Linked DNA regions of Homo sapiens: regions 2 and 3 are each linked to region 1. The links come from fine-mapping of genetic effects on gene expression. A gene starts in region 1. Each other region holds a variant in brackets. All regions are shown on one strand. Distances are from middle to middle.

Region 1 (10,709 bases):
AGTATAGAATTATGGGTTCATAGGTTTTTTTCTCTTCCTACCTCTCCCAAGAACTTTTATATTACTCCTTTGTCTTCTGACATGCATAGTTTCTGATGAGAAGTCCACTGTAATGCTTATTTTGATTCCTCTGTCAGTAATAATTCTTTTTTTATCCATCAACTTTTAAGCTTTTCTGTGTATCACTTTCATTCAGCAATTTGATTTTTCCTAATTTTTTATTATGGTAAAATACACATAACATAAAAATTTGCCATCTCAACCATTTCTAAGTGCACAGCTGAGTGGAATTCAAATTCATAATGTTGTGCAACCCTCACCACTATCCGTCTCTGTAAATCTTTTCATTGTGAAAAACTGAAATGCTATACCCATTAACCAATATGGTACTTCCCCAGTATTTCCTACAATATGGTGTTTCCTCAGTATTTCCCCATTCCTTTTTCCCTGCAATCCCTGGCAACCACCATTGTACTTTCTATTTCTATTACTTTGACTATTCTATGTGCCTCTCAGCAATTTTATTTTCATGGTACCTTGGCATAATTTTCTTTATGTCTTTAATATTTGGGTTTTAATGAACTTCTTTAATCTGTAGGCTACAGTTTTCACCAAATTTGGAAAATATTCAGCCATTATTTTTTCAAATAGTTTTTCTGCCTCTGCCACCTTCTTTCCTGGGGCTACAGTTATATTAGATCATTTCATATTTTCCCAAAGGTTATTGATATTCTGTTCAATATTTTTAAGTCTCTTTTCTCTCTGTCCTTCATTTGGGTAGTCTATATTGTCATGTCTTCAAGTTCACTGATTTTTTTTTTTTTTTTTTGACGGAGTCCCGCTCTGTCACCCAGGCTGGATTGCAGTGGCGCAATCTCGGCTCACTGCACCCTCTGCCCCCAGCTTCAAGCAATTCTCTGTGTCAGCCTCCCGAGTAGCTGGGTACAGGTGCCTGCCACCATGCCTGGCTAATTTTTGTATTTTTAGTAGACACGGGGTTTCACCATCTTGGCCAGGCTGGTCTTGAACTCTTGACCTTGTGATCTACCTGCCTTGGCCTCCCAAAGTGCTGGGATTACAGGCATGAGCCACCATGCCCGGCCAAGTTCACTGATCTTCTGAAGTCTCATCAGCTGCAAATCCCATCCATTGCATTCTTATTTCAAATATTGTATTTTTTCTTTCTAGAGGTTACATTTGGGCTCTTTTTCTATGTCTTCTATTTCTAGCCTCATCATGTTCAGTTTCCTTTACATCCTTAGGAATATTTGTAAGATTCATAGTAGCTGCTTTAAGGTTTCTTTGTACTAATTCTATAATCTGTCATTTTTAAGTCTGTTCCTATTGGTTGATTTTCCTCTCAGATATGGGTCATATTTTCCTTTTCATGTCTGGTAATTTTGTATTAGATATTGGACATTTTGAATTTTACATTGCTGGGTGCTGGGTTTTGATATATTCCTGCAAAGGATGTGGCACACTTTTCAGTAACTTGTAGATCCATCTGACCCTTTCAAGCTTTTAAACTTTGTTATGGCAAGTCCAGAGCAGCTTTTATTCTGGGAATAATTTATCCCCACTACTAAGGCATGACATTTCTGTGAACTCTACCCAATTCCTATCTAATACCATGTCTCTGCATTCTGGTTTATGGTAACATGCAACATTCCCAGTTCTGTTTAAGCCCCAGAAATTGTTCAGCCTATGGCCTTTTGATGGGTATTTCCCCAGTCTTAGTTTCTTCTCATGCATGTGCAGATTACTGCTCAGCCAAAAACTTAAGGAGACCTCTCTTCAGGTTTCTGAACATTTTTGGTGCAGCTCCTTCCTTTAGGGTTCTCCCTATAAATTCTAGCCTCTTTGGCCTCTCTGAATTCTTATTTTTATCTTCTCAACTCAGAAATCTAGAATTCATTTGGATTTCCTACAATATGGCCTAAAAACTGACCCCAGTACTAAATGGGGGCAATTGTAGGACTCACCGTGTTTTTCTTCCTTCAGGGATTATTGTACTGTGCCTGTTGTCCAATGTGAGTTGTTTAACACATTTAACTACTTTTTAGTTGTTAATAGCAAGGGCACAATTTAATTTCCATAGCAATTATTTTTTATTAGCAGACTTGGGTTTCATTTTGCCCATTTTTTTCCCTAAGGAACTTATACCATTTATATATACTAATGAGTAAAGGATTGAATAAATGATTTTACACTCTACTGGTCCTTTTCCATGCAGTATTTTTCCTTACTTTATTCTGTAATCCTCACAGCAGCAATTTTCAACTTTTTTTTGGTGGACAATCTATACTAAAAATTTGATATTTAATAGAATTATTGACAACATTCTTCAAGAAATTAAGAGATTCAAAATAACAGAAACAAATCAATAATGATCAAAGCACAATCACCAATCCAGCTTAACAAGGTCTTTTAGTATCTATAAAAGCAGCCCCTAGGGCTGGGTGTGGTGGGTCACTCCTGTAATCCCAGCACTTTGGGAGGCCGAGGTTAGGCGATAGCTTGAGCTCATGACCAGCCTGGGAAACATGGTGAAAGTCCGTCTCTACAAAAAATATAAAAATTAACCAGGCATGGTGGCATGTGCCTGTAGTCCCAGCTACCTTAGGGGCTGGGGCAGGAGGATCACTTGAGCCCAAGAGGTCAAGGCTGCAGTAAGCTATGTTCGTGCCACTGTTCTTCAGCCTGGGTGACAAAGTGAGACCCTGTCTCAAAAAATAACCAAAGCAGCCACTATTCATTTACCACCCCTCAGTGTTATACCATTTTAGTAAGAACCATCTACTGCCCTAGCTTTAATAAAGCTGTTATTAAAAAATGTATTAGTGTTCTGGAATTATGAGTGATTAGAAAAATATTAAGCTTCCTGTTTTACAGTAGTCCACCCTTGTCTGTAGCTTTATTTTCCAGTTTCAGTTACCCATGGTCAATTGTGGTTTGAAAATATTAAATGGAAAATTCCAGAAATAAATAATTCATCAGCTTTAAATTATGCACCATTCTGAGGCATGTGATGAAATCTCCTATCGTCTGACTCCACCCTACCTGGGATGTGAATCATCCTTGTCCAGCACATTCAAGCTGTATTTGCTACCCCACCATTAGTCACTTAGTAGCCATCTCGATTGTCAGATCCACCATCACGTTGTCTCAGTGCTTGTGTTCAAGTAACTCTTACTTTACTTAATAATGGCCCCAAAGCACAAGAGTAGTGATGCCAGCACTTTGGACATGCCAAAGACAAGCTGTAAAGTGCCTCCTTTATGTGAAAAGGTGAAAGTTCTTGACTTAATAAGGCAAGAAAAAAACTGTATTCTGAGGTTGCTAAGATCTACAGTAAGAATAAAACTTCTATCCATCAAATTTCAAAGGGGAAAAAAATTGGTGCTAGTTTTGGTGCTTCACCTCAAACTATAAAAAGCTGTTGCCACAGAGCATGATAAGTGCTTAGTTAAGATGGAAAAAGCATTAAATTTGTGAGTGGAAGATATGAACAGAAACAGTCTGATTGACAGTAATCAGTTTGGGTATTATCCACTGTTTCACTGGCATCTACTGGTGGTCTTGGAACATATCCCCCTTGAATAAGGGAGGACTACTATAATAATAATGTATGTACACTGTCAACATTTAAGAAAATATGATAAATTACAAAAAAACTTTAAACAATCTGCAATCCATGGCCGAGCGCTGTGGCTCACACCTGTAATCCCAGCACTTTGCGAGGCCGAGGTGGGCGGATCATGAGGTCAGGAGATCCAGACCATCCTGGCTAACACAGTGAAACCCCATGTCTACTAAAAATACAAAAATTAGCTGGACATGGTGGCGTGCACCTGTAGTCCCAGCTACTCAGGAGACTGATGCAGGAGAATCGCTTGAACCCAGGAGGTGAAGATTGCAGTGAGCCAAGATCGCGCCACCGCACTCCAGCCTGGGCAACAGAGCGAGACTCCGTCTCAAAACAAACAAACAAACAAATAAAAAACAATCCCCAATCCTACCACCAAAAGACCACACTGTTAATAATGCTTTCCAGTCTTCTCACTGCATACCTGTGAAGGCAGGATGAGAGCAGGTGCAGGACAGATGTGAACAGAGCACTGCCCAGGTGTGCCTCACTGGTCCACCTGTATAACTGTCCATGACAGGATGGCATGGACCTAGAATCTAAGAAAGAGCAGTGAAGATATACCACTTTCCGAATCAACAACATATGTTTAAGCGATTCCTACGTGGGGGCCAGCGCAGCAGTCCAGAGTATCCAGTCCTGGGTTCAAGGTTATGGCCTGCCACTTAATAGCTCTGATTCTCGATGAGTCACTTAAACTTCTGAGCCTATTTCCTCCTCCATAAACTGGGAGTGATAACAGTACCTTCCTCTTAGGCTGATCCATGTGAAGTGGTTAACACTGCCTATCCTGCAGTAGGCTTGTATTAATGTAGGGTTTTAATATACGCACAGGGATATCGTATTAACAACTTAAAATAATAGCTATCATTTATTGAGCCTGCACAGTCCTAAATGCCTTCTATGGAATACCTTATGCAATTTTTATAATAATCCAGTGAGGTATAATCCCCACTTTTTACAGATGAGAAAACTTAAGTTTGGTGGGGGGTTAAGTGACTTGCCCAAAGTCACATTAGAAGAAAAGTGGAATCAGGCTTTGAACTCAGGAAGTCTGACTTCTACTCACTCCTTAACCTCTATAATAACCTCTCAGGCAGCACACACTAAATATTAACTTGCTAAATTTTGACATTTAGCACCCGAGTGGGTATGATTGGTTTGTTATTATTATTTTTAGAAATAGGATCTTGCTGTGTCGTCCACTTGCTAGAGTGCAGTGGTGCAATCATAGCTTACTGCAACCTCAAACTCCTAGGCTCAAGTGATCCTCCCACCTCAGCCTCCAGAGTAGCTAGGACTACAGACACCTGCCACCACACCTGGCTAGTTTTAAAATTTTTTGTAAAGACAATGTCTCACCTATGCTGCCCAGGATGGTCTCGAAATCCTAGCCTCAAGTGATCTTCTCACCTCAGCTTCCCAAAGCACTGGGATTACAGTGAGCCACCGTGCCTTACCTGGTTGGGTTTCTGAAGTTACAATATTGCATATAGTTTTCAAAATATAAAGCAAATAAGGGATGGCTGGGTGGGGGCAAATATTTGACTCTCTTGAATATTCACAGAATGCTAGGTTTCATCAGAACACAGTTTAAAAACTCCTGGGGGAAGTTCACTGTTGGACAGTTCTAATTGCTAGAAAGTTCCTTCCTGTATCAAAGCTGATTCTCTCTCTCTTTTTTTCTTTTTCTATCCGTCCTAATTCCCACCCTTGGAACCAACTCAAAGTAAGTCTCATTTCTCTTCCACATTGGTGATTTTCAAAATGCAAGTCATAGTCTGTAGTCTTTTGTGAAGTTTTAGTTTGTCATATGCGTGTGTGCATGCTGGGTCACAATATAAAATGCATTTACCATGAGTCACAGTCAAAAGGTTTGAAAGCCACTGTTCTATATGACTATTCTGCAAGAATTTGAAGGCAGTTGTCGTGCCCCACCACCTAAAGACTAATCTTCTTCTCCACATGGGACCTCCCTGGCTTTTGCCACATATCTCCTTGCTGCATGGGGAGCTCCTTTCCTCACCGGACCCAGGCATCGTCCTGCAGTCCTGTCACAAAATTCACGAGACTCTCTGCTCAAACCTTCTTAGGGATGACTTCCCTGACCACCCTCTCTTAAGAAGCACCAACCCATCTCTCTCTAGCCCCTTACTCTGCTTTATCTTTTTCAAAGCACTTTTCACTACCCAACATTATATTGTATGTTTATTACTTTATTTGTTTATGATCTTCCCCAGTAGAAAGTTCAACTCTGAATCTTCAGTCTATTTCCTCACATACAGTATTTGCTCAATTGGCCAGGCATGGTGGCCCACACCCGTAATCCCAGCACTTTGAGAGGCTGAGGGGGAAGGATGGCTTGAGACAGAAGTTCAAGACTACCCTGGGCAACATAGCAAGGCCCTGTCTCTACAAAAATAATAATAATAGTATTGAGAATTTTTAAAATTAGTATTTTCTTCATAAATATTGGTGGAATGAATGAATGAATGAATACTAGAGGTAGACACCTTTTAGCAATTGTGTGTACAGCTGTGCTCAGAATATATTTCCAGCGGGAGTTAGATTCTACAAGGACAGCTCACATGATCACAACTATAGGCACAGTTTCATTTTATCATCTCTTGTGTTTTTAAAAAACGTTATATATGCTAAGTATTACAGTTTACATTATACATGTTACTGTACAGGGTATATAAACATGTACTAAACTATGTATACTGTTACTTTAGATAGAATTTTTTTGGATGTCCTGAGTAGTTTCGTCTGTAGGCGATTTTTATCTACTCAGTTATAAGCATCTTGGAAGCAGCTTACATTTTTTCAAAGCACTCTCAGGTAAATAACCCATTCGATAGTCTTCATAGGCTGAGAAAGTGTATCAGGGAGCTGGAAGGAAATTTAGCGGCGGGCTAGTGACCACCAGGTTCCAATCTCACCCTTTTATTTTACAGATGGGTAAATCGAGGCCCAGAGCAGGGAAGTCGTTTGCTGGGGGACACCCCCTGAGCTGGGGTGAACCTATGAGTAGAGATCAGGTCTTTGGCGTCCACCCACTGCCAGGCACTGAAGCCTCCCAACTTTTGCGCACTCGCGGAGCCTGAGCCAGAAGGGTCGGACGCCCACGCCCCTGGCAGGAGCTCGGTGGAGCAGGCAAGCCCCAGTTGTCACCACTTTTCGGGTGGAAACACCGAGGACACGCCCCGACGCAGGGGCAACTCCCATGGTGGCTTCTTCCCGCCCTCGGGGCTCCACCTAGCTCAGCCCTGGAATTCCGCAAGCACCCGGAGGCCGGGGGGTCTCCGCGGGCGTCCCATGCGGAGGACATGGTGCGCCGTGTCCTCTTCCCCACGACCTCAGGGACCGGTCCCCCCGCCGGAACTGCTTCCTACCTGGTCCGGTCCCGGCAGCTGAATCTGGCCAGCCCAACCTCCCGGTCGCTATGGCACCCACAGGCCTAACATTCGCGAGTCCACCTTCCGCCGTCCGCGAGGTAACTCCAGCCAATGGCATCCTCTGTTTCTTTAACGTGAAAAGTTGTTGACCAATCATTAGAGGCGTTTCAAAGTCCGCAGAGAAGCCGGCCGAATTTTAGGGCTTAGGTTAATTACATCAGGGCCTGTAGCGGGGTGGGGAACTAATAAGAGGTTTATCTAGGCCATGCTTCAAAAATCTTGTGATAAACCAAAAGCCTCAGAATTTTGCTCACTCAAAAATCCTGCTTCAAGGAATATACCTAAAAGAATTAACATTCATCCAAGCCCTGTTTCTTTTTTTTTTGAGACAGAGTCTCGCTTTGTCGAGCAGGCTGTAGTGCAGTGGCGCAATCTTGGCTCACTGCAACCTCCGCCCTCCAGGTTCAAGCGATGCTCCTGCTTCAGCCTCCTGAGTAGCTGGGATTACCGGCGCTCGCCACCACGCCAGGCTATTCTTTTTGTATTTTTAGTAGAGACAGGGTTTCACCACGTTGGCCAGGCTGGTCTCGAACTCCTGACCTCAGGTGATCCACCCGCCTCGGCCTCCCAAAGTGTTGGGATTACAGGCGTGAGCCACCACGCCCGGCCCCAAGCCCTGTTTCTAACAGAAGAAAAAAAAAAAAATTGACATGGGCGACTATACAAGGGCAGCCACTTAGTATTCCAGGAGCCCCTCTTCACACGCTTCAGGGCAGGGCGGTCTCAGCGACCTTGTCACTCCCCTGCTTAAAGTCCTCCAATGGCTCGCCTTTAAATTTAGGGTGAAATCCAAGCTTTTTTTTTTTTTTTTTTTTTTTTGACAGGGTCTTGCTCTGTCGCCCAGCTGGAGTGCAGTGGCGCGATCTCGACTCGCTGCAACCTCCGCCTCCCGAGTTCAAGCGATCCTCCCGCCTCAGCCTCCTGAGTAGCTGGGACCACGGGCGCTCGCCACCACGCCCGGCTAATTTTTAAATTTTTTTGTAGAGATGGGGTCCCACTATATTGTCCAGGCTGGTCTCAAACTCCTGGGCTTAAGTGATCCTCCTGGCCTCCCAAAGTCCTGAGATTACAGGTGTGAGCCACCGCGCCGGCCCCCAAATATGTTATTTATAAACTGTCCCTGGCCCGTCCCTCAGATCGCAGGCCCAACCACGCCCCCAGAAAAATCTCTCACCAGCCCTGCTGGCCTTCGGGCAGTTTCTACAATGCACCAACTCGTTCCTCTCCCATGTTCCCAAGGAGCTTTCTCTGCCCCACGATCTGAGACTAGAACTGCCTCTTTCTCATTGTTGATGTCTAGGCCCAAATGACATTTCTTCATACGTAAAACGGGCTTCAAGTCTCACTCATGGCTGTGACGATCTGAAAGCAAATGCGTGTATATGACAACGTGTGAGCGATGAGAAGCTTGTCATCTGTAAAACTCCATGCGCATGTTAATTATCATGGCCGTGATAATTATGTACATTATAGAAACATTAACCAAGCGCTGGGCTCGTTTCAGGACCTTCAGTATTGCTGGGAGGCTTGGTATCCGACAGGTGTTCCAGGAGGGCAGGAAAGGAGAGATATGTTTGGTCCCAAGTCTCGCGAGGGCTCTGGGGAGCGCTGGGTCTTCAAGGACGTTTTGGATTTGAATACTTGGTGAGAGCGTCGGGTAGGGGAACAGCAGGAGCAAAGCCCGGAAGGTGGCTATGAGGATAAGAAGGGAGGACACCTGGCAGGCTGCTAAAACCAGGCCCACCTGCCGGGCAGGTGGAGGCGAGCAACCACCTAAGCTCTCTGGGACAGCGGGAGAGGGGGCAGGGGAGTCGCCGCACCATTCTTCCTGTGGCCGCTAGGGGGTCCCCGCTCCAGGTGAGCGCCAAGCTCTAGCCCCAGGTCGCTCCCTTATGCTTCAAGCAAGCTTTGCAGCGCAGCCAATTGCCAGGGGCTGTCCCGCCTACTCCCCGTCCTCGCAGCCACTTGCCTGCGCGAAATGCCTGCCAACTTCTGACTGGCAGGCAGTCTGGCAAATCAAATCGCGACCTTTGAAAGCAAAACACTGCAGCATCTTGGCAGCTCTGAATTGGGAAGGGATGAAGGAGGCTGTGCCTCCGGGTTGCACGAAGAGTCCGAGTCATTTCTCAGAAGGTTTTGATAGGTGGGCCTTAGAGGAGACGCCGCCGGTGAGTAGTGATTAACACCGGGAGGAAGGGGAATTGAATTTAACCTTCGTTTTTTTCTGGAAAAAGCGAAGTCACCTAACGTCCCCTAGTGTACATACCCTTCCTTCTTACTGTCACCAGCCTCGCCAACCTGGGTCCCGTTGCCTTGGAATGTTCTTTCCAGTTTTGCATCGAGGCCAAGAGGAGCGGGGGCATGGGCTACCTTACTAAAGGTGATGCCAGGCTCTACCAAACCAGGAAGTGACATGGAGTTAACTTTGCCAGAATTTCTCCTCTTCGTGCCGAGCGGCTCGGGCTTCCTGGCGGCAGCAGATGGTGGAGTTAGCAGGTGGGATGAGGGGAGGCGTTCTTGGTCTAAGCCCGCTTCTGGAACAGAGGTGCTGTCTCCTCGAGTTGTAAGTTTCCAGCTCAGTGGGACGGGACGGAAGAATGTAACCTTCTCGTGAGCCAAAGCCGAGGAACGGGAAGCTTGGCAGGGAACTGGCGCTCACCTCCAGAAGCCAGATCGTCGGGTGGTGGGAAAGAGCGTGTTTTATTGATTTGTTCAGAAAGAGGCAAATTCGAATACAGACGCTATGAGCCACGGCTGTCTCATTTGTAAAACGTGCTCTGTGGGATTGGTGAAATCCGTCATCGAGATAAACGGGGTGGGAATGGAAGCAGAGCACCTAGTGAATTCTCATTCCTTCCTTGGGTCAGTGACCACGTGCTCTAATTGTGGGGTGGTTGACAACGCAGAGGTGACTGCTTGCCTCTCGGGCATATGTAGGTCCTGAAGAAATGCTTCGAAATCAGGAAAAGAGAGTCACCAGGTGAAAAGTATGTGTCTTATAAGGGAGTACAGCTTGCAAAGGGTTCCTCCAGGCTTTCAGTCCGGACTCCCACCCAGCTGAGGGAGAGCCTTCAATCTTTGCAGGCGATGCTTCAGAGGCCTGCGAGTTCCTGAGGCAGAGAGGGAAGCTGCTTTTTAAAAGAAAAATTAAACCACAGCAATGCCAACCACCACAAACAAAAGCAAAACCAGAAAAGCACTTGGGCAAACTACTCTGAAGGATGTTAGGAGGCCTGGGTTCCCACCACTCCCTTGATTGACATGTCGCTAAGGTCTGTTGGCTTTCTCTGACCTCCTGTGGGTGGGGCTGAGTATATCTGCTTGTTGAAGCTCTGGAGTTGTGGTTGATTAGGCCTTAGAAAGGCATTCTTGACTGCGAAGGGGCCACAGTGCACCCAGTGCTTAACCAGCCTGCATTTAGTCAGTCGGTTGGTATGTATACAAGTCACTGTCAGGCTCTGGGCTAGATCTCATTTAGTCAGTTGGTTGGTATGTATAGAAGTCACTGTCAGGCTCTGGGCTAGATCTCAGCTGGGAGCAACTGAACAGGGTATTCCGCAAACACCTCACTGGAGTTTGCGCTCCTCAACTCCATGACTGCTTCA
Region 2 (10,709 bases), 47 kb before region 1:
ATGCTGAGTTCTCCTCGACTGACTAGATGAGCCCCAGATCAAACCTCTACAGCCTTGCTGGTGTGATTATCACCACATTTGCAAGGCCAAAGCTAGGAGAATGACCTTCTCCTGGCCCAGTCTGCCTTATGTTAGTCTCACCTGTGAGTATGGAGCTGACGGCATCTCCCCACCTGACTGTGGCCTCTGGGGGCAAACCTGGGGCCCAGGTCATCTTGGCTCCCTCGCACGGGAGCATCGTCAACACTCACAGAAAGGCTGGGTGTAACCAAGCTGGCAGTCATCACAGCTCTGCCTTCATCCTCCCATGCCACCTGCCACACATGTCAGTCCCCAGTGCCACCAGCTTTGGCCATGGTCAGGCTGTGGTAATAGCGAAAGCGCTCTATAGAGAGCTACAAATAGGTCAGGAAGCACAGAGGCCGCCCACTGGACTGAGTCCCTCATGATATTAGCTCCCAGGTAGATCCCAGATGTAACAGGGGATCCCTACTTATGCTTGCCTGTAAAAAGAGTGTGGCGCTAGAAGGTTCAAAAGAGCTGCTCCGTTGGACAGTCCCTGGTTAATTTCATGAACAAACAAGGCATAAATGGGGAAACACCTGGCACTGCCCGCCACGAACTCGCTGCGGACCTGTGGCCCACCTGCTCTCCAGGGCTTCCTCAGCTGTAAAATAACCTGGCCACACTAGACCAGTAGTTTAAATATTTTTAAGAAAAAGAACTTTTCTGGCTGGGCACAGTGGCTCACGCCTGTAATCCCAGCACTCTGGGAGGCCAAGACGGGCAGACCAGTTGAGGTCAGGAGTTCGAGACCAGCCTAGCCAACATAGCGAACCCCTGTCTGTCTCTGCTAAAAATACAAAAAGTAGCTGGGTGTGGTGGCATGTACCTGTAATTCCAGCTACTTGGGAGGCTGAGGCATGAGAATTGCCTGAACCTGGGAGGCGGAAGTTGTGAGCCAAGACCGCACTACTGCACTCCAGCCTGGGCGATACAGCGAGACTCCGTCTCAAAAAAATAAAAGTAAAAAAAATTAATAATAATAAAGAAAAAGAACTTTTCTGACACTCTGACAAAAGCTATGGCCTCCTTTCCCAGAAAATAATGTCTATATGTGCCAATTCTTCAGCCAACTGCAGAGTCACAGACCCCTTCAAGACTATCTTTGAATCTTTTAGATGTTCATGGTCCTCAGTATGAATCCCTGGCCTGGACCATCTCTAAGAGCCCTTTCACCTTAAAAAACAAAACATTTTTGTACTGTGAAAATGTGAACTGATAATGCTTCCAAATCTACCCTCATCCCTGTAACCTATTTGGGAAACAACCTATAAATCAATGGCATTTGATGACCCAAGAATGACAAACAGTTCCAGAAGATTTGGTTTTTACAATCATTTAAAACAATCCTCTGACCTGGGCCAGGCAGGCCTGGCTGAGGCGGCGCCGCTGTCCACCGGCTGGTATTGGACACGAATGATGCACTAGAGATGAAATGCTTGCGGGGGCCTAAGTAGTCCACGATCTCATACTGACCAGGACCTGGGAAAGGTGGCTTCGGAGGCAGAGGCGAAGGCTGAGCAGAGAAGTTCAGGATGGGGTTTTTCCTTTGGGAAAGATAAAACGGGAAGATGTCACTAAGGCAGTCTAGTGGGGAAGGCACAGTTTCTAGACACAGCCAAGACCTGCACAGCAGCAAGCTGTCTGGAAGAGGACTGGTCACGGCACTGGGGCAGAGCCCTAGCTCCACTGGTAGTGAGCTGGGGACCCCTGGATCTGTTTCTTCATCTGCACATGGCAATCATGATGGGACCTACTTTGAGGTCAGGGTTGTCAGGATAAATGAGATGACGTACCTAAAACACAGTACTCAGGATAGGCCTGGCACACAGTGAGAGCTCAGTGTGCATTGCTGGAGATGTGGAGCTAACCAGAAATGGCAGGCCGTGTATATCTCATGTGCCAACTCTGATTGATTGGTAGTGCCTGGCTGGAGTTCTGTGAAAAAAACTGAGGCCTCATATGGACTCAATGGGAAGAGGCCTTAGTGACCCACTTGTGATGCCTGCCATGGTCAGGGAAGAGAAAGAAGCATCCCACATTCCACAGATTTGCCATCCCAAGACCAGCAGGTCTTTAGAGGCCACTGTAACATTGACATTCCAGAATCCTACTAAATATCATCCTGGGGAGGCAGGAGGCAGGAGTGGAAAAGCACCGGGCTGGAAATCAAGAGACTCTGCATAACCCTTTACCACTCACACCGCCATTGTTTTCAAGTCTGTCTTCCCCTCCTTCCAGAAAGGGAGTCTATCTTTTATCTCTGATATTGAGACATGAAATGAAAGACCGGACCTGTACTTGAGTCCTAGCTTGGTCACTAACTCATTCTGGGCCTCAGTTTCCCCATCTGTAAAAGGAAGGGGTTGGACAAGATGACCTCTGAGGTCCCTTCCTGCTGTGACCTTTCATCAGGCCTTGATTCAAAGTTCCACTGGGTTGTCAGAGACTTCTGCGCTTGTTACAGGAATCATGCTACTCTCCCAACCATGTAATAGAAGGGCCGCCTCCTTCTGGCTCACACCCAAGGCTTCTTCTAAAAGGCTTCTCACCAAAAGGGGAGAGGAGGTTCTCCGCACTGAATGGCCAAGGGAGCCTTCCCCAGCTTCCCCCAGCACTCAATGACCAAGGGAGCCAGCCCATCCAAGCAAAGGAGGGGACTTGGGATTCCTGGCCACTGGGGCACTACTGCACTTTAGCCAACAACTTCTTAAACACAGAGAGCTTGAGGGGACCCAAGTGATGTCTTCTTCAACCTCCTTAGTTTTCTAAAAATGTTGGTGTCCGGAGAGACAAAGTAACCGATCCAGTTATAGGCACCTTTGTAGGAATGCTGGCATAGAACTCAAGTGTTTGGCACCTAGCAATATGGAGAAAGCATGATGGCGGAGGGGACTGAGTTTAAGGGTCACACACAAACCTGAGGCTGAATTCTAGTCATGCCACTTACTGGCTGTAAGACAAGGCCCCTGATTTCTCTATAGCTTAGCGTCAGTATACACAGCATTGCAAGGAACAATGACACTAACTTTATAAAGGAGTTACAATGAACAGAGAAAAGGTATGTAAAGCACCTAGTAGAGCACCAGCACATAGTAGGTGCTCAATAAAGGTAGTTGTTATTCTTCTGATGATCCCTGTGTCAGCATCAATGTGTGCTGCTTGGTGACAGACAGGCAACTGAGCCTCGTAAAAGACTGACAGGGCCCTTCCACCCCAGAGTCATGCTGAGGCAGGGGACACCCCCCTGGTCAGAGAGGACACTGAAAGCCATCATAAATGTGCTTGGGCTCACATCTTGTGGTGGAGGAGCAGCTGGCGTGGATGCTTATATTTAGAACAAAGGTACCCACAGGGAAAGGGGGGACATGCTGCCTCCCTGTTTGCTATGAATCTGCATGGAAGAACTGGTTACAGGGTGTAATCAACAACCTCTCCCCTTATAAATAAAAGCTGGCTTCTCCTTGTTCTGGCTTGTGGCTCCCCCTTCAAAACACCTCCAGACATTTGATGAGTTTGTGGCTGGCATCATGGAGAGACAGGTTTGATTCCTGGAAATTACAGCTGGAACAAATCAACCATTATATGAGGTCACCCCATCACTGGTCTGGGTCACTCCAAGCCCAAGATTCCCACCCTGTTCTTTGAGAAAACCATGAGGTGTCTGCTTTCTTAGCCAAGGACAGCCTGCAGAAGGCTGGAGCACGCTGAGTTAATGACTCACCAGTGTTCTTGGCAAGATGGGTTAGAGAGGTTTCTTGTCTTCCACTCCTTCAGTATGCCCAGGAGAGGCTCAGAACCTTCAGCCTAGCACTATGGATCTTTCATGAGCACCAGCCATGTGTGGGATTCTGGGCCAGGCATGCTTGGGAATCCAGGCAGTTCTGTACTAAGACACGGACTTGAGTGTCCTTAAGGGCTTGACAATCCGCTGCCAGCAACAGCCATGACTGGTGACAACTTCAGGCAGTACAGGCTTTGCACTCAGACAGAGCTGGGTTTGAATCCCCACTTCCCCGTTCAACAGCTATGTGTTCTTAGAAAAGGCTCTTAACCTCCTTAAGCCTCAATTTCCTCATCTGTAAAACAGTGGAA[A/G]TAATACCTACTACCCAGATTGTTAGGAAGATTGTGCTTTACTTGTAACATTTGTTTAAAAACATGAAATCTGTTCGAATAGAGGTTAAAATAAAAAACTGCATTGAAAGCAGAGAGAAAGAGACAGAGACAGAGGGACATTAATTCCAACAAGATGAATCCAGAAATCCATCCAGAAATCCAGAAAATCTTCAGGTGGGGAAGAGCATTTCCAGCAGAGGGAACAGCAGGAGCAAAAGCATGGAATGGGGAAAGCTGTAGCTGTTATGGCAGGAATTGGGACACAAGGAGACAGACGCTGAGCACCTAGACTGCCTTCAACCCTCCATTCACCAGTGATTTCCTGGGTTGTTCACTTGCTTCTGATACTCCCCACTTACAAACCCTGATGAAAACTTAAAGGCAAGATCTATTTATGGCCTCTCAATCCAGCCTAATCTCCCATGTCCTGCTGCTTCCGTTTTACCTTCCAGAAACACCCAACACAACACAGTTCAGCAACTCCATGCCTTTGTCCCTGCTGTTCCTTCTGTGAGAAACACCAACTTTCCCTGCAAACTCGAATTCAATTCTTGACGTTCTCACTTTCTTCCAGGGAAACTTCTCTCCTCCACCCACGCCTGTCTCGCCACCCCCCACCTGACTGTCTTGAATGTTCCCATCCTGTGACTCAAGTGAGGAACATGGGTTTTGGAGATGGATTTTGGAGGCAGAGGGACCTGGATTCAAATCCCAGCCCCACCACCGTCAACAGCCTGCACTTCACTGTAAACTCGGAATGACACACCCACCTGGAGGAGAGGTGGAAGGACGACGGCAGGTCACATCTGAGAGCTCTCAGCTCAGAGTATGTGGCCCCTGAATACATTCTGGCTATTACTTTGCATTTAAAATGTTGCATTTTCTATGGCTTTTACTTGCCTAGCTCTTTAAGGGAAGGTATTGTGTCTTCCTCAGCTTTGAGGCCCCTAGCCCTATCCCGGGAACATTTGCTGAAGTGCAGAGAAAAGCAGAGGGCTGGCAGCATGTAAAGGAGCCCAGGCATCTGAGGCCCACATGACAGTTTCATCCTCATCCAGGGCTGGTCCCTCCATGTCGAGGTGGGGCTGACAAATCACAAAGGTCAGGCTGGATCAAACCCAGGGCAGCCCACAGTGCATTGTGACCAGGGCTTTTATGAGCCTCATTGCTCAGTTATAAAAGCCAACCTGGCCCTGCCCCGTGGAAAGAAAACATCTATCAAAGGCTCTGAGTTGGCCACAACTGGATTAAGTGTGTTTGCAGCTTCCAATGTGAGCTGTTTGCAAATCACCTAAGAATAATGAATGTCTTAGAGGACTCAGCAGGCCACTTGGGGAAAGCATCTGAGACCCTCCAGACACTCCCAGGCACACATTCACTCGCCTCAGGGATTCCCAGGGTTGGGAGGGATAAAGGGGCAATTTTTCTCATCATTAAAGGGCAGCCGATTGCCTCTGGGGTGGAATGCAGTATCTGTTTAACAGGGTAGCGGGTGACAGATTACAGCTGCTTGGGAAGAAGCATCCCATATCTAATTGAAAATCCCAGGGGAAGTTAGGGTGGGTCCAATCTAATTACCAAAATTGGAGTGGGGCCAACGGGGCTTGATTTTTCAGCTCTAGCTGTGACAAGACAGCGTGTCTGTGCAAATCCAGTGGCTTAAAACTCCAGGAAGCAGATCAAGGGTTAGAAAAATGGCCCTGAGTGTTGCACCTCCTTGCTGGGGAGCATGAGTTGGAAGGCATTGCCTAGGAGGAACTATTTTGATCTCCAAAACTCTCACCCTGACTCACCCTAAGTGATTGAGTCATCACTGTGACGGATATTGAAGACCTCAGAAGCGAAACCTTGGCTGATACTTCACTTTGCTTCTGAAGACACCCTGGAAGCTGAGAAGTCCTCTTAGCTTTGAGTCAGCAAGGTGGCCATGGCCAAGGAACACCCGATGGCATGACCTTTAGCTAAGGAGCTCAGAAATGCCAGTGCTAACAAACAGCCAGCCCCAAGCACAGCATCCGCCCTGCGGGGCCACACTAGAAACCCTAGGAAGACACAGAGGACCCGCTCACCTGCTTTGATAAAAATACAAGTTACCATGTGAATTTTGTGGGTTATCTCCTTTTATCCTTACAACCACATTATGAGGTGTTCTTATCCTGGTTCACCAAGGATGACTTTGAACCCACTGGGAGTTAAGTGACCTCCCTTCCCCCAGGCCCACAGGGCTGGTGAGCAGGGAAAGTGGAGGTTCCATGGTACTGACTTTGGGGCCTACGCTAATCAATCCACTGCCCACGCTGCCTCCATGGCCTCTTCAGGGGACGTGATCAGCCGTTCCCTGCCCTAATGGTGGCCTCCTGAGCTTTGGTCATATCCAGCCATCCTCTCACGGCTGGGCTTTACATTTTTTGGCCAGTAACATGAGACTAAAAACTCCAGGGAGAATTCATATCTGCACTGATGCTTCCTGCACCCTGAAGAAAGCAGATCCAGAAAAGCATTTCTGTAGCTGTAACTCTGCCCAAGAATGGGAAGCCCATCAACTCCAACCCAAGACAGATGAGGGCAGGTCTCCCCCTGCATGGCACGCGTGTGTTCCCGAGAAAGAAACATGGCGGCAAGTCACCGCCGCTCCACGTAGCCGTGGAGAGCTAAAGAGGATTAGTTCTGATGTGGACAAAGTCCTAAGGGAAGGTGCATGCAGATGGGGTCACCTCAGGGGTCTACTGACCTCAGGAACCCGTGTAGCTCCTGTCCCTCTCTTCCCTCCAGGGACACAGGAGAAAACAGAACTGGAATTTGAGAAACTGGATTTTGGATATTTCCTCAACACTCTGATATTCAGCTGTCTTTTCTTTTCATTACATCATTTTCTTCATCATTCATCGGGAACAGATAAATGTTTTTTTTAGAATAGTCCAAAGCCTACCAGTCTTATCTTCTTGCTTTCCAAATAAAATGATAAATTTCTTAGCTTCATCTTTCCCACGTTAATTTTAAAATACATAATCTGGACCTCCTCTGTGGGTCCAGGCTGGCTCCACGTTCGTTGTCCCCTGTGTGCTCTCCTGAGTCCATGGTGAGCAAACCTGGGATTCTGATGTGTCAGAAATGCAGACACCCTTCTTTCGCTTATAGAGAAATGAAGACCCAGAGAGGTGCCCAGAGCAGCCCCAGACCACAGAGCCAGCTATACAAATGTCGTGCTATAGAGCCTGGGGCACCATCCCCTCATCAGGGTGAACCCAAGTTTAGGAGACAGCGGGTTAATAGGTTCCTTTACTGCAGGCCTTCTCAGAGCCTTTAAGATGCCTGTGCAGACTGCGATGTTCTCAGGGGCAGAGGGTTACGATGCAGTGCTTCTCAGACTTATTAACCAAAGACCTTTTATTTGTGAAGCATTGACAGAGAGCCAGCGAGCCCTAGAAGCCCCAGACACGCAGTCCCGCTGCACTGCCCAGTGGGAAGACGGCCCCATGGGTTGTACATGGCCATACACCCCTGGGGCCACCTAACCCGGCATTTTGCTGCAGGCTCCTCCACCTGGCTTCGAGGCTGTTCCCAGATGAGGTTGGCTGGAGGCGTGGTGTCCTGTTCACCTGAGCCTCCAGTACAGAACTAGAAATCTATAGAGTCTGCTGACTGACAAATGCAAACGCCATAAAATAAGAACGATCTCAAACCACCTGTTCAAACTTGAGCAAAAGCCAGAAGATATTTCTCCAGATAAAGCAGTTAAAAATTGAGCATCCTCCACTCTTATGTTATTTCACCATTTTCCTTGAAGAAGCTTCCAAATTTGGGCTGGGGGCTTGAGCTGCCATGCCAAATAACAGCTGTATTGTATAATATAGCCTAGTAGGTCTATAGGATATACAATAACCACAGCTATCATTATAAGGGTAATAGCTATTTTCTTTCTTTTTGAGACCAAGTCTTGCTCTGTCACCCAGGCTGGAGTGCAGTGGCATGATCTCGGCTCACTGCAACCTCCACCTCCCCGGTTCAAGCAATTCTCCTGCCTCAGCCTCCTGAGTAGCTGGGATTACAGGCGCCCTCCACCACGCCCAGCTTTGTATTTTTAGTAGAGATGGGGTTTTGCCATGTTGGCCAGACTGGTCTCAAACTCCTAGCCTCAAGTGATCCATCTGCCTTGGGCTCCCAAAATGCTGGGATTACAGGCGTGAGTCACCATGCCCAACCGGTAATAGCTATTTTCCAACATCTTCTCATCGAATCTTCATGGAATCCCTACGAGATAAGATCCTTATCTCTACTTAATAACATAAAACTGAGGCTCAGAGAGGAGAAGTCTCTGGAAGGTACAGAGCTGGGATTCATACTCTGGTCGGCCAACTCCAACACCTGTCCTCTTGACCACTCTTTCTCTGGCAGAGTAAGGGAATAGTTACTTGTAGAGATGCCGCATGCCAGCCTGGAGGCGGGAGGTCTCTGGAGAGAGACTTTCCAGAGACAGAGCTGTTCCTGGAGACTGGCCTGCCCCAGCCCCTAGCCCTACAGCCTGTACAAGGCCAGCCTGCAGAGCCCTAGACCTGGAGGGCAGAAGGGACTCCTCTGGTGGATTCCAGCTGAGGTCTCAATCCCCTCTCCAGATCTTAAGTTCGACTTGGCAGATTCACAACTTGCACCTCTCTCTAACTGTGGTCCCCTTGCCCTAGGCTGATGATCAGACTATGCCCAATGTTGGCAGCCTCCCTGGGTTGCCTGGACTTCTGACCCACTGTGGCTATGGCTCCTAACACCTGCCTGATCTCTCTGGAGGGGCCCAAGAGGATATATTGTTGGTCCCACCTGGCCAGCCCTCCCAGTGGCCAGCTCTGTCTGGAGGGGCTACGCATGGGTGAGAGCTGAGATGGTAACAGGAGGACTAACCCTAACTGCAGTTAGTTCCAGAAGTTCTAGAACCATTCGAGAAATAAATAAGCTCTGTGAGTATTTGAGCCTCTTAGGTGAGAGTAATATAAAATGTGTAGGATATTAAACAGGGTAACAAAAATCCCTGTATTTACTTTTAAAAATCTGTGTTAATTTTGAGTCACCAGCTGCAATGCCAATGCCAAACATATATTTTATTTACTTTTTTTGTTTTTTGAGACAGGGTCTCACTCTGTCACCCAGGCTGGAGTGCAGTGGCGCAATCTCGGCTCACCACAATCTGGGCCTCACAGGTCCAAGTGATTCTCCTGCCTCAGCCTCCCGAGTAGCTAGGATTACAGGCGTGCACCATCATGCCTGGATAATTTTTGTATTTTTAGTAGAGACAGGGTTTCACCATGTTGGCCAGACTGGTCTCGAACACCTGATCTCAAGTGATTCGCCCACCTCGGCCTCCCAAAGTGCTGGGATTACAGGCGCAAGCTGCTGCGCCCAGCCAAACATGTATTTTTAATTCTGAAAGCAAAATCCTACGAGGCAGGAATTATTCCCACCTTACAGATGAGGGCATGGAGGCTCAGAGAGGTTAGAACTCTGCCCAAGGTCACAGAGCATAAAAACAGCAGAGCTGAAGTACAAATCCAGCAGGTATCACCAACTCGAAAGTCAGGGCTTAAACTTCCATCGGTATAAAGCTATGAGAGCTTGACTGCTTCTGAATGTCCTGCCACTCCAGCGAAGATTTTATGTTACAAAAATAGAACAATGTCAGCACCAGGGGAATCCAGCATCACAGGGAATGAGGAAAGACTTAGTCCTGAGCCAATTCCCTGTGGCTCCTCAAGTTGGCTGTGTGGACTTGGGCAAATGTCCCGCCAAATCCGAAGCCTTGCTTCCTCCTCTATGGGGTAAGAGTAACAATTCTTACAACAGGATTATAATAATAATTGAATACAATTTTAAGTTCCTGGCACACAGTGGTTGCTCAATAAGTATCAGGCATTCAACAGGCATTTACTGAGCATCATTATGTGTGACTAAGGGCCCCTGAAGAGAGTGGCCCGGCACTGTGCTCTGCCAAGCAGTGACACCCCATCCTTTTCTCTATGTTGGGCTTCTTCCCCACAACCACCTTTCAAAAGAAAGACCAGAATGATTGGGACTCACGGGAAAAGAGTCTTTTTTGGAACTTTTGTGCAATCACTGGGGTTGTAATAACCAGGTCCCGGGCCTGTTGACGTCAGTTTTAATCCACGGTTGGTTTTTGATTTAAAACAAGACATTAATGTATTTGGCGACTGCTTCACAAGGGATTCGTTGATATCATAATGCCCTAAGGAGAAAGAAATTTTAGGACAGAATAAGGAACTCTTCTCAAGTAAATAAAAAGCAGTACCTTACCCCTAAGAACACACCTGATGGCTGCAAGGCACCATCACTCTAGGATGGCCAAGTGGAAGGGCTGACTGAGATAGCCAAAAACAATCCTCACCATGCAGAGAACAGATGGCACGGGAAGCACACACTTAGCTGATTTAGTTCTCGCACTAGCCTGGCAAGATGAGTATTACTGCTTTCATTCTACACATGGGAAACTGAGACTCAGAGATTGTTAAATAATTTGCCAAAGGACA
Region 3 (10,709 bases), 550 kb after region 1:
GCAGAGGAGGAGGAACATTAAATAGTAGTAATTTCTGGCATTCCATGAGGGCTTGTCTGTGCCGGGCCCTGTGCTGTGCACGTGATACACACTACCTCATTAAACCTACCCAACATGCCTTGAGGGGGTGCTATTCATTTTCTCCATTTTACAGGTAAGAAAATGAAACACAGAGAGGTGAGGCACCTCTCCCAACGCCACACAGCGAGGAAGTGGCAGAGCCTGGCTGCAGCTGAGGCTTATAGCCGCATTTTACATTGCTTTCTCTCCGAAGAGTGCCTTCCTTTATCCCTGGGAGCCATTGACAAGGGGTCTGACAGTCCCTCTAGTCTTGTGCCTGCTCAGCCCTCTCTAGCCCTGAAAAAACCAGGGCTTGGCGCTGGAGAAAGAGCAGGAGGGTGAGATGTGGAAACATCTGTTGAGTGGCAGGGGATCACGCTGGCGCAGAGGGGCCCGAGCCGATCAGGAGGCCGGCCTGTGCCAGGCCAGTGCTCCCTGTGTACCAGGTGCCACATGCGGGGCTCAGGGTAGGGCCACAGTTGCTCCTCCCAACCACCCTTTGAGGTCAGTGTTACTAGCCCATTTTACAGAGGAGGAAACTGAGACCTTAAGAGGTGAATTAACATGTCAGGTCACCCAGCTACCATGCAGTTTAAGCCTAGATTGTTCTGACTCCTAAACTGTGTGCAAGGCGGATGATTGGACCCCAGGGAGGCAAGGAAAGTCAGTTTTCCTGCTGCTGAATTCAATGTTTTACAAGACCACACACCTCTTTAGACCTCAGTTTCGTCATGTATGAAATGAGGAGGGGAACTCTCTGCCTCCGGGCTCTGATATGCTCCTGGACTGATTCACTGTTCCTTGTTCTTGTGACTTCTCAAAGCAAGACCAGAGTCCCACTCCCAGCCCTAGGCCCGAGATTCCCATCCCCACTGTGTCCAGGGGCTTCAGGAGGTGCTATTTTAGGGCAGATGGCAAAGGCCTGGGCTGTAGATCCACTGAGGGCTAAAGGCAATCTTTCTTCCCTCCACCCCTCCCTTCCTTCCTTCCTTCTCTTTACTTCCACTAAGCAAGGTAGGGAACTACTCGCTGAGTCTCAGGGCAGGCCCACGGACTGAAGCTCAGGAGGACAGGGCTCCCCAGTGGCTGCAGGTGTCCCAGCACTGACTCCTAGCAGAGGGGGTGTTTGGGTTCAGTCTGGAAGATTGGGTGAGATTCCCCAACTACGGGGGGTGGGGGCACACTCTGGGTGGCAGATTTGAGGAAGAGTCTGCAGATAAGGCATCCCCAGGAGATGGCAATAAGAGCTGGTGTTGGGGCTGCCCCACTGAACCCAGAGCCCAGGCCTGTTTCCCCACCCATGGAGGAGTCCGGACTGGCTCAGTGGCAAGGCCGGGGTCAGAGGCTGCCACTCTCCTCCTGCCTCTCACAGCCCGCTGGAAGGTCAGGTTTTCAGGCTCTGCTTATCCGTCTCCCGGCCTCCTCCCTCCAGGTAACCGAGGGAGCCTCCGCTTTGATGCGGCCACCTCCAGGCCCAGGCGTCAATGAGCCCTCTATATGACCAGTGGGGCTGCTGGGGGCCTCCAGCCCGCCAGAGTGGGTGCGGTGAGGCCTGGACACACAGTCCCGCTGTGTGGGGTCGGCTCATGCCTGCCTAGACCCTGTGGGCAGTGGGGGGCTCCTAGGAATGCTTTTCCAGCCTGGGGGGCACTTTGGACAGGCAGGGTGGTCTGGGGAGACGGGTGTGTGCAGGGCAGCCTCAGAAGCCGCCATCAAAGGGACCTAGCAGACGTGGCGCCAGGCAAGCGCCATAGTGGGCACGGAAGGGCTGGCGGTCAGTCTGTTCCTCTCCCAGGGATGGCGGGGAGGGGGAGGCCCCATGGACACATGTGCTCAGGGTGACCAGCCATCAGGGGTTGCCTGGGATGAAGGGGTTTCCTGGGACGTGGAGCTTTCAGTGCTAAAACAGAGAGTCCCCTGTTATTGGAACTTCCTGGACCTTCGGAAAGGATACAGTGACTGACCTCTCTGGTCTGGGCAGCCTCCTCCCTGTCCGGTGACCTCTGAGTCAGACCATCTCGGCCAGACCTGCCCAGGGCCATTTTGTCCACCCCCTGCCTCCACACAGGCCTGCCTCATACCCAAGAGTCCACTTTCCATTTCTCCCAGGCATCTTCAGGGGAGGAGCTGCCGGCCAACTCCAACCACTGCTAGGGGGACCTCGGCCAGACCCACACCACGCTCCCAGCCCTCCCTGTGGCTCCCGAGCCAGCTCATACTTTCCTGCTTCCACACCTTTGCCCAGGACGTTCCTTCTGCCTGGAACATCCTTTCCCTGTCTTTGTTACCTCTTTACCCTTAGGGACCCAGTTTCCAAGTCACTCCTCCAGAGGACTTGTTCTCTCTTTCCCAAGGCTGGGCTAGTACCCCTCTTTGAACTCACAGCCCTGGTTCTTCTCCCAAAAAACCTTTGTCACGCCCCAGGGCAATTTTCTGTTGACCCATCTTTTTCTACACCAGATGGTGAGCTCTTAGGATGGAGATCCTGACCCAGTTTCCCCCGGGCTCCCAGTACAAGGCCATGCTCATGGTGTTCATCAAATGGAAAATGCTTATTGAGCAACTACTCTGTGCCAGGCATCATGCTCCTTTAATTCTCTCCATAGCTCTGCAAGGTTGGTGTAACCCCTACAGATGAGGAAACCAGAGACAGAGAAGTGAAGTAACTCATGCAGGTGACGGCAGAGGGCAGAGTCAGGACTTGAACCTGGAGAGCCTGGCTCTAAAGCCCAAGCTGGAATCTCGATACTCTACACCTCGATAAGTTTTTGGGAAATGACTGACTAAACAGATGAACGCGTTTGCCCCCCCGCCGCCCCAGAGCCCCCTTAAAGCCTACATGTGGCAGTTTGGGCCCATTTCCTTGGCTTCCCTCCCTGGAGGGGCACCCACTGCCAGTGTCCCTGGTGAGTGTTTGCCTGTGGGGGTACAAGTGAGGGTTCAGCAAAGGTGACCTGGTGTGAGGGGGGGGTGCCCCAGGGGGTGCAGAGGAGGGCCTCATGAGGCAGATTCAGAATGAAGGTTCTGGCCCCCAGTGGAACCGTGCATGGGCAAGGGGTCCTCAGGGCCATTGGCCCATAATTGTCAGACGGGGAAACTGAGGCCCAGAGAGAGGAAGGGACTTGTCCTTAGTTACACAGAGTGTCTGGATCACAGCTCTTAGGTCTCAGCTTCCCCATTTGTCACACAGGGAGAATAAATCCCCCTTGTCCTGCCTGGGGGTAGACCCCAGGGGGCCCCTGTGCCCTCTCACACCTTCCATTCCAGCTTCTAGAATTCCACCATCCATGCACCAGCCCTGAGGGTAGGCGTTGCCCTCTTCTCACCTCCTGCTCACGCCTCTACTGCAGGATGGGAACCAAATGCCTCTCCACCCTTTTCCCACACCCCTTCTCTCCACAGTGAACTGAGGGGAGTTTCTGATCCCTTAGCTCAAAGTCAGAGAAACTGAGAGGGGAGGGCTGGGTGGGAGCCGTGGGAATGTCATGCACAAGCAGTCGGACTCTCCAGGGGTCTGGATCTCTCCCTTGCTGCCTTGAAGGCCCCTGCACAGGCTGTGGCACTGGCTGAGTACAGGTGCCTGAAGGCAGAGGCATGGATGGGATGCTTCATTCTCAGCCTGTTTTTGCCAGTGAAGACAAAAGGGAAGTCATCTTCCGTTGGTCTATGGGGACCCTGAGGTAGTAGGAGCTCGGTGATAATTCTAGGGACCACCCTGGGTTGTCAGGTGGGGGAGACAGAGAAGCCCACATAGGAGGCACCAAATGCAACTCACTCGTGCCCTTTTACTCATGAGAGAACACGGATCCAGAGATGTCAAGTGACTCAGACACAGTCTCACAGCACACAGGCGGCAGAGGCAGGTAGGGGACTGGGCTTCCCTGGCAGCAGTCCCCAAGCCTGCCTGAGAGGCACATCAGAATCGCTTTAGGGGATTTGCAAAACCACACCTGCCCAGGCCCAAACCCTAGAGATTCTGATTCCGCAGTCTGAGGTAGGAATGGAGAATCCTCCACAGCCTGAGGTAGGAACTGGGAATCCAGTGTTTAAAACTCTCTAGGGGCGGTGATTTCAGAAAACCTGCTGGCTCCATCACACTTTGCTCAGGGACTGAGATGGGATGGCATTTGGAAGACACAGGTAGGAGGAAGAGGAGGCAGTGGGGGGCACAGGGAGACCCTTCCCCTTCTGGTAAAAGCCTGTGGACGAGAGAACAGCCCGAGTAAGATTCTGAGAACCCGAGACCCGGATGGACCTGGAGTTTTTGTCTTGCGTATAATTTAGGGGGTCTGTGACACTGGGCTGGAGATAACCGTGTCTTTCCTTTCCCTGGCCTCTAGCTGAAATTTAGCATCATATTCCATGGCGATTTTCCACCAGTGGAAATCACAGGTGTTCTCTGGTATCACAGCGGGGTCAGGGATGACCTGAAATATTGTTCATGCTCATCACAACTGCATGGCCCACCGCGGGGTCTTGTCACTCAGTGAGTTCTTGAAGAGGCACAGACAAATGGAGTTCAACAAATGGAAAACGTGAGTCAATATGTCACCAGCTTGCTTTCTGAGTTTGACAATGGTATTTCCATCGATTTCTTTTCCTTTGTAATCCTTTGGATTTTGTCTTACGCGTTTAAAAACGCAACTCCGAGGAGGAACCTGAAGGTTCCCTGAGACTGCCAAGGGTCGGTGGGTTAGGGACCCTGTAGGGGGCAGCGTGGGGTTGGCACCCTGCAAATGGGACCCTGGGGCTGCGTCTCTTTGAGGAAGGAATTGGCAGCTGGAGCCCTGTAAGCCTCCAGGGATGGGATTTGGGAGACAGGCCCCCATGGCGAGCACGTCGTGAGCAGAAATGAACAGGAGAGAGAAGGCTGAAGAGGGGAGACAGGTCTCCACAAAAGTGGAGGGAAGGCCCTCGGGCCACAGACCCCAGATCCAAACATCTCCACAGACCCTAGCCTATGAGGCGCCTTCTGTGCCACTGCTGGCCAGGATCAGCCCGCTCTGCCCAGCGGCCTCCTGTCTCTGGGCGCATACATGACATGTTGGGCCAAAGCCACCTCTCCCTTTGTGCCCTTTGTGCTACTGCCAGCCACCTCCCAGGCTCCGAGGATCAGGACCCAGCCCAGGCCGACCGGGGCTCTAGCCCTGTCTCCCAAGGTTCCTTTGTTTTAAACCCTACATTTCTCCATCTTGCGCACGGAAGGAGAAATACAGATTACAAAGACCCGGCAAATGGATTTTATAAACTCTTATTTTCTTGCCACAGAACTGCCTTTAATTAGCTCCGAGGACTACAAAGGGAACAACGTTATAATAGCAGCAACTCCAAGGAAGCAGCCACAGCTCTCAGCTCTCAGACCTGGGGCTGCCGCTCATCATCAGCTACAGCTAGGTTTGATGGGAGTGCCCCCATTTCAGGGGACAGCAGGCCCCCTTCACTCCCCGACTCAGTCCCCATCTGCAGCAGCACAGCCTTCCTTGGCCTCACCAGGGAAGAAGAACAGGCCCCGCTCTCAGACAAGCCTTCCCAGAAGCCTGAGGACTCAAACACCCAAATGTGTCTGGGTCCCTGCCCCGAGCCGGCCACCCAGGCAGCAGCCCTGAATCACTCGGTCAGCCAGCGGCAGGGCAGGCCAATGG[G/A]CTGGAGGGTAGGCAGGCAGGCAGACCCACCTCTGCATCTCTGCTGACTGCCTCGGCTGAGGAAAGGCAGCACCAGCCCCCAACCCTGAAGTTCTAGATCTCATGCAGCCTCTCTGTTCTGGAACCATCCAGAGGCACTGCCCTTATACATGGTCCACCCCCAGGCTCAGACAATGAGAATTCCACAAGCAGAGGGGACTCTATTTGGGGCACAGAGAGGTTAAGTAACTCCCCTCCTAAGGTCTCTCAGCAAGGAAGCCACTGAGCCGTGGGACTTGAGCTCAGGGACTCTTGATCCCCAGTCTCAGGTGTCACAGCCCCATCTGGGCTCCTGCTAGGGAGGAGGAAGGCAGCAGGGGGTGTCTGAGGCCAGGGTGCATCAGCCCTAAATGCCAGACAGAGGCAGGAGAAGTCTCCCCATGAGTCCCAGCCCCATTAGAGGCTCCAGGTCGGGGATCCCAGACCCCCTATCCTTGCTGGGAGACACAACCCAGAACTCTGCATCCCTGCAGCCACCAAAAAAGGCAAAAGCTGCCCAGAAACACTTTCTCCTCTTCCGTGGCCAAATCCACGAACTTTCTCGAGGTCTGTCCCCCTGCCCCGTGCAGGTCCAGCTTCAGTGCAGCCCAGCTCTGTGCAGTTTTCCACAAAAGCCTGTGGCTTCCTTCTCCTCCCTCTGCTTCTGATACCCCAGGAGTTACACACAAAATGTTGGCGGTGGTCTCCAGGAAGACCCCTGCATCCCACAGCTCTCCCCAGAAGTTGCCAGCAGTGACCTCCTGAGCCCAGGTGGGGAGTCCCAGGCAGGACAGGGGCTGGGGCTGCAGGCCCTGGGGCCCTGTTAGTGAAGCAGCAAGCCGAGGGTCCCTGAGAGTTTCCCTTGGCCCCTCTGAGGGCTGCCCTTTGAGGTCTTGAGGTCTTGGAGTATCCATCGCCCCCACGGCTTACTGTCCCCACCAGCGGAGGATGAAAGTGCCACAGCGATGTTCCACGCCAAGAGACCACAGAGACCACCAACCCCTCTTCCCACCTCAGGCTTTCAGAGGCCAGCGGATTTAGGCGGACAGGCTGTGCGCTTGAGGGCAGCCAGGGCGGTCAGTGGAGGGACGTGGTCCGGGGCCTGGCCACAGCTCCCCACCCAGGGCCCTGGGCTATTGTTACTCACCGCGGATGAAGGTCGGCGAGTAGGTCGGGAAGGAGTCGAAGATGCTGTTCGATGCCATGCCCCGCTCTGAAGAAGGCGAGAATTTTCAGCCCTTCAGGGGGTTGGGTTGGGATTCACTTGGTTGGCTGTTGTTTTATTTTTTTTTCCTCTAGCTACTTTTGAAAATAAAAGGGGGGGGTGTTGCTTTTTGTTGTTTTTTGTTTTGTTTTTGTCTCTTTTTTCCCCCCTGCTGCTACGAAAAAGAAAAAAGGAAAGAACGCGAGAGTGTGTGTGAGTGAGAGAGAGAAAAAAATCCCCAAGGAAAGTAAGTTTCTGTTTGTACCCAAGAATTTGGATTCCCGGTCCCACAGGAATGTCTAGCCACAAATTCTCAACAGAAGCGTATGCAGAGTGTATCATTAGATGGCGGGAAGGGGCTTTCGGCAGCCAGGGTGGAGGAGCTCCGAAGCTGACAGAGCAGAGTGGGCCGCCTCCAGTGCCACGGGGAATGAATGAATGAGGCTTACCCTTGACAGAGCCCAGGCTCTGGTGGGTACGAGGGCGGCCGGGGGTGGGGAGCACCAGGAGCCAACCAGCTCCCGCGCAGGGCCCTGGAGGCGGCAAGGGCCTGGCCTTGTGGTTCTGTGGTTGAGGGACCAGGCCTTCCCAGTGTCAACCCAACCTCAGCTCACAGGATGCGAGAAGCCTGCTCGCGGCCTTGGCTCATTGGCTGGGCCGCGGTCACCTGGGCCGTGATGTCACGGCCTTTTAGAAGATCTTGTGGCTGCCTCTCTTTTTGGAAAAGAAAAAAAAAAAAAAGAAAGAGAGAGAGAGAGAGAAATAGAAAAGTGATGGCTTTTATTTGTGAGGCTGGCCTCAGCACGCGGCCCAAGAAACAGAACTGAAAGCGGTTGCAGTGGGCGTGGCCAGGAGGGTGGTTTGGCTCCTGGGTGGGAGACTCCTTCTTAATTAAGGCCAGCATTGGCCTGGGCGGGCTAGGAGCCCCGCGGGCCCCTCACCGAGTGCCCAGAGCCCGGATCCACCAGCGGCCGGAGAGCTCCCTGCCATGCCACCTCGCCCCTGGGCTGCGGCTGACTCCCTGCCATTGTCCACCACCATTGTTGCCAGGGAGAGGTGTCCACATGTGTGGCTGGGTGGCACCTCTGGGGCTTTTATGGGAGTTGGGACTAAGTACAACGGGAAACACATGAAGTGGCATTGCCAGCACTCACGCCTGGCCTCGGCCTGCCCACCGAGAAGGGCCTTCCTGTGGAAACCTGGTGGCCTGCCCGCACTGGGGGGCCCTCTGCAGGGCTGGGGGCTGAGTCCCCAGCATGTCATTCAGGGCCCTTTACTCCTCTTGTTGCCACCTGCGCATCCCCTTGGGGGTCTCTGCCCCAGCATGATGCTCGGGAGCTTCCCTGCCTCCGGGCCTTCGCTCATGCTGTTCCCCTCACCAGAAGCGCCCTTTGTGTCTTCATGTCCTTGAGGAGTCAAGGCCCAGAGAGGCTCAAAAGTAGAAAAGTCATGAAGACGATTGAACCCTATACTTGCATGTTCCCCAAAGTCATGTCAGGATGGGAGAGAGGGTGGAGAGTGGGGGAAAGGTGGCGGCTTTTACCATTTCCCTTGCAAGCTCTACTCTCCCATTTCACAGGCCAGGCTGCGAGGCCCAGGGTGGTGACGCCAGCTTGTCTAAGGTCATGTGGTATTCTGGAATGGGATTGGAACTTCAGCCTCTGACTCACCAGCCCCGACCTTGGGCATGACACCAGAGTGCCCTTCCATGCCCTTTAAATGAAGACTTCAGAAAGTCCCTCTGCAGCCTGGCCACCAACCCCTGGCCTCTCCCAGGGACCCCAGGCTTGGGGCTAGAACCTAGCACCAGCCTCTGACTCACAGTAGCCTCTGTAGGCCAACAAGGATGGGGTGGGGACATCCCTGGAAGAGGATGGGCTGGTCCAAGGTCCCAAAGAGACTTGTTTCTGCCCAAGGCACATGTGCAGAAGATGGCCTTGGAAACGCTCACTCAGCCTCATCTCAAGCCTCATGAAGATTCAGTCTTCTGTCCCTGAATGGTGGGTCAATTGGTGCTGAGGGTGGGGGTGGTGGGGACAAGAGTTCTAATTTGGCCAGAGAGGAAGCAGGTTTATGGTGACAGCCACAGAGCTCTAGAGTCAGATTTGGCTTCCAGCCCCAGCTCTGCTGAATCTGAGCAGCCAGACCCTGGGGAAAGTCACTTCCTTTCTCTGGGCCTCAGTTTTCTTCCCTGTAAAATGGGGATAACACCTTCTTCAAAGGGACAGGCACGGGGTGAGGGCATCATAAACATTGGTTTCCTTGGCTGAGCCTCCATGACGCAATTTGGGCTCCGTTATGAGTCAGCTCAAGTAAGGAGCTATGACAGTCATGCAGGGGGAGAGGCTGCCCCGCCCCCACCCTGTGTTGTAAACTCATCAGCTGGCCAGCCTGCATGGGACCCTCAGGGGTCAATGGCACAGGGGGGACCTGCCAAGGGGCCTTGACCTCCTGGTTGAATTTGATGCCTTTTGGAGTCAGCCATCTGTGAAATAGATTGGAGAATGACACAGCTGGGAAGACCCCCCCTTATACAGAAGCCGAAACTGCGGCCCCCAGAGGAGCAGAGACTCATCCAAGTTCACCCAATGAGTCAGTGGAACCCAAGCCCCTGCTTCCCAGCCCAGGAGCTGTTTCCATTCCACCAACACCGCCTCCAGTTTTGAACATACCACCCTACGTGCTTTGCTGTTTTTTCCACACCTAAGAGTGGGCCCCCCCCAAGCCCCTATAACTTGATCACCCTGAGGGGCTTCCCCCTCCCTGGGAACCTGAGTCCAGGCCCAGGAAGGGGAGGGAATTCAAGAGGCTGTGCACGGCCCAGTGATCCATCTGTGCACCGAGTAGTTCAATGCATTCTCGGGGCAATGTGGTGAATTGGAGCCAAGCTTGGTCCTTGCCGCTAAGGGGCTTATCATCTCTACATGCCCCCTCATAAGCATGTGCTAAGCTTTAAACAGCCCTGGGGAAGCTGCCAAGGGAAGCAGAAAGGACAAGGAGGCTGAAACCAGCCATACCTGAAGCCTGCTTTGTTTCTTATGAACTGTGAGATTCTGGGCAAGAGGCTTTACTCTTCTGAGCCTCGGTTTCCTCGCCTGTGAAATGGAGCCAACTGTAGTGCCCACCTCCCAAAGTCATAAAGAGGACTCAATGAGAAAATAATTGTGAGTGTGCTTGGCACATAGTAGGTGCTCAATTTCCAGGGACTCCCTTCCCTTGAAATTCTGATTGTGCATTCCCCTGTCGTGCAGTGGGCAGTCAGGCTTCCTCTTGTTCTCCACTGAAAAAAACTTAAATCAGGTTAATAAAAAAATATGGTTGAAGTAGGGAATCATAAGAAATATTATATAAAAATAAAAGGGAATCATAAAAATAGTATCTTAAACCCTTCTTTTAGCTTTAAACTTATAAATATGCATTAAATGGCCTTCCTCTTGTTCTTCTAGCTTAACAATTTCCAGTTTGGGTTTCTTTTTTCTTTTCTTTCTTTTTTTTTTTTTTTTTTAGAAACGGGGTCTTGCTCTGTTGCCCAGTCTAGAGTGCAGTGGTGCAATCATAGCTCACTGTAACCTTGAGCTCCTGGGCTCAAGCAATCCTCTCGCTTCAGCCTCCCAAGTAGCTAGGATTACAGGTGTGCACTACCACGCCCAGCTAATTTAAATTTTTTTTTCTGTAGAGTCAGGGTCTCACTATATTGCCCAGGCTGGTCTCGAAATCCTGGCTTCAGATGATCCTCTTGCCTCGGCCTCTCAAAGTGCTGGGATTACAAGTATGAGCCCCCATGC

What was found.
Region 2: its variant is fine-mapped to the expression of STPG1 in prefrontal cortex (CommonMind, PIP 0.95).
Region 3: its variant is fine-mapped to the expression of STPG1 in hippocampus (GTEx, PIP 0.96).

The regions. Positions count from the first base shown.
Region 1 is chr1:24,406,633-24,417,341 of GRCh38, forward strand. STPG1 (sperm tail PG-rich repeat containing 1) reads right to left here and starts at 7,150. Exons shown (of 9, transcript NM_001199013.2): 1 at 7,042-7,150. It overlaps NIPAL3 (NIPA like domain containing 3), which reads left to right and starts at 9,170. Exons shown (of 12, transcript NM_020448.5): 1 at 9,170-9,272. RefSeq lists an enhancer at 6,646-6,765.
Region 2 is chr1:24,359,432-24,370,140 of GRCh38, forward strand. It overlaps STPG1 (sperm tail PG-rich repeat containing 1), which reads right to left. Exons shown (of 9, transcript NM_001199013.2): 7 at 10,243-10,408; 8 at 1,420-1,610. It also overlaps a transcript of GRHL3 not described here. Among named protein-coding and RNA genes, the nearest start is that of GRHL3-AS1, 43 kb to the left of the region's middle. RefSeq lists enhancers at 5,386-6,585, 5,788-6,082, 5,847-5,896. The variant A/G (reference allele first, on the strand shown) is at 4,159.
Region 3 is chr1:24,957,647-24,968,355 of GRCh38, forward strand. RUNX3-AS1 (RUNX3 antisense RNA 1) reads left to right here. Exons shown (of 4, transcript NR_183341.1): 3 at 4,401-4,595; 4 at 5,329-7,062. It also overlaps a transcript of RUNX3 not described here. Among named protein-coding and RNA genes, the nearest start is that of RUNX3-AS1, 33 kb to the left of the region's middle. RefSeq lists enhancers at 1,235-1,424, 5,541-5,670, 5,871-5,930, 7,602-7,711, 8,072-8,171 and 4 more and silencers at 3,875-3,954, 7,332-7,531. The variant G/A (reference allele first, on the strand shown) is at 5,703.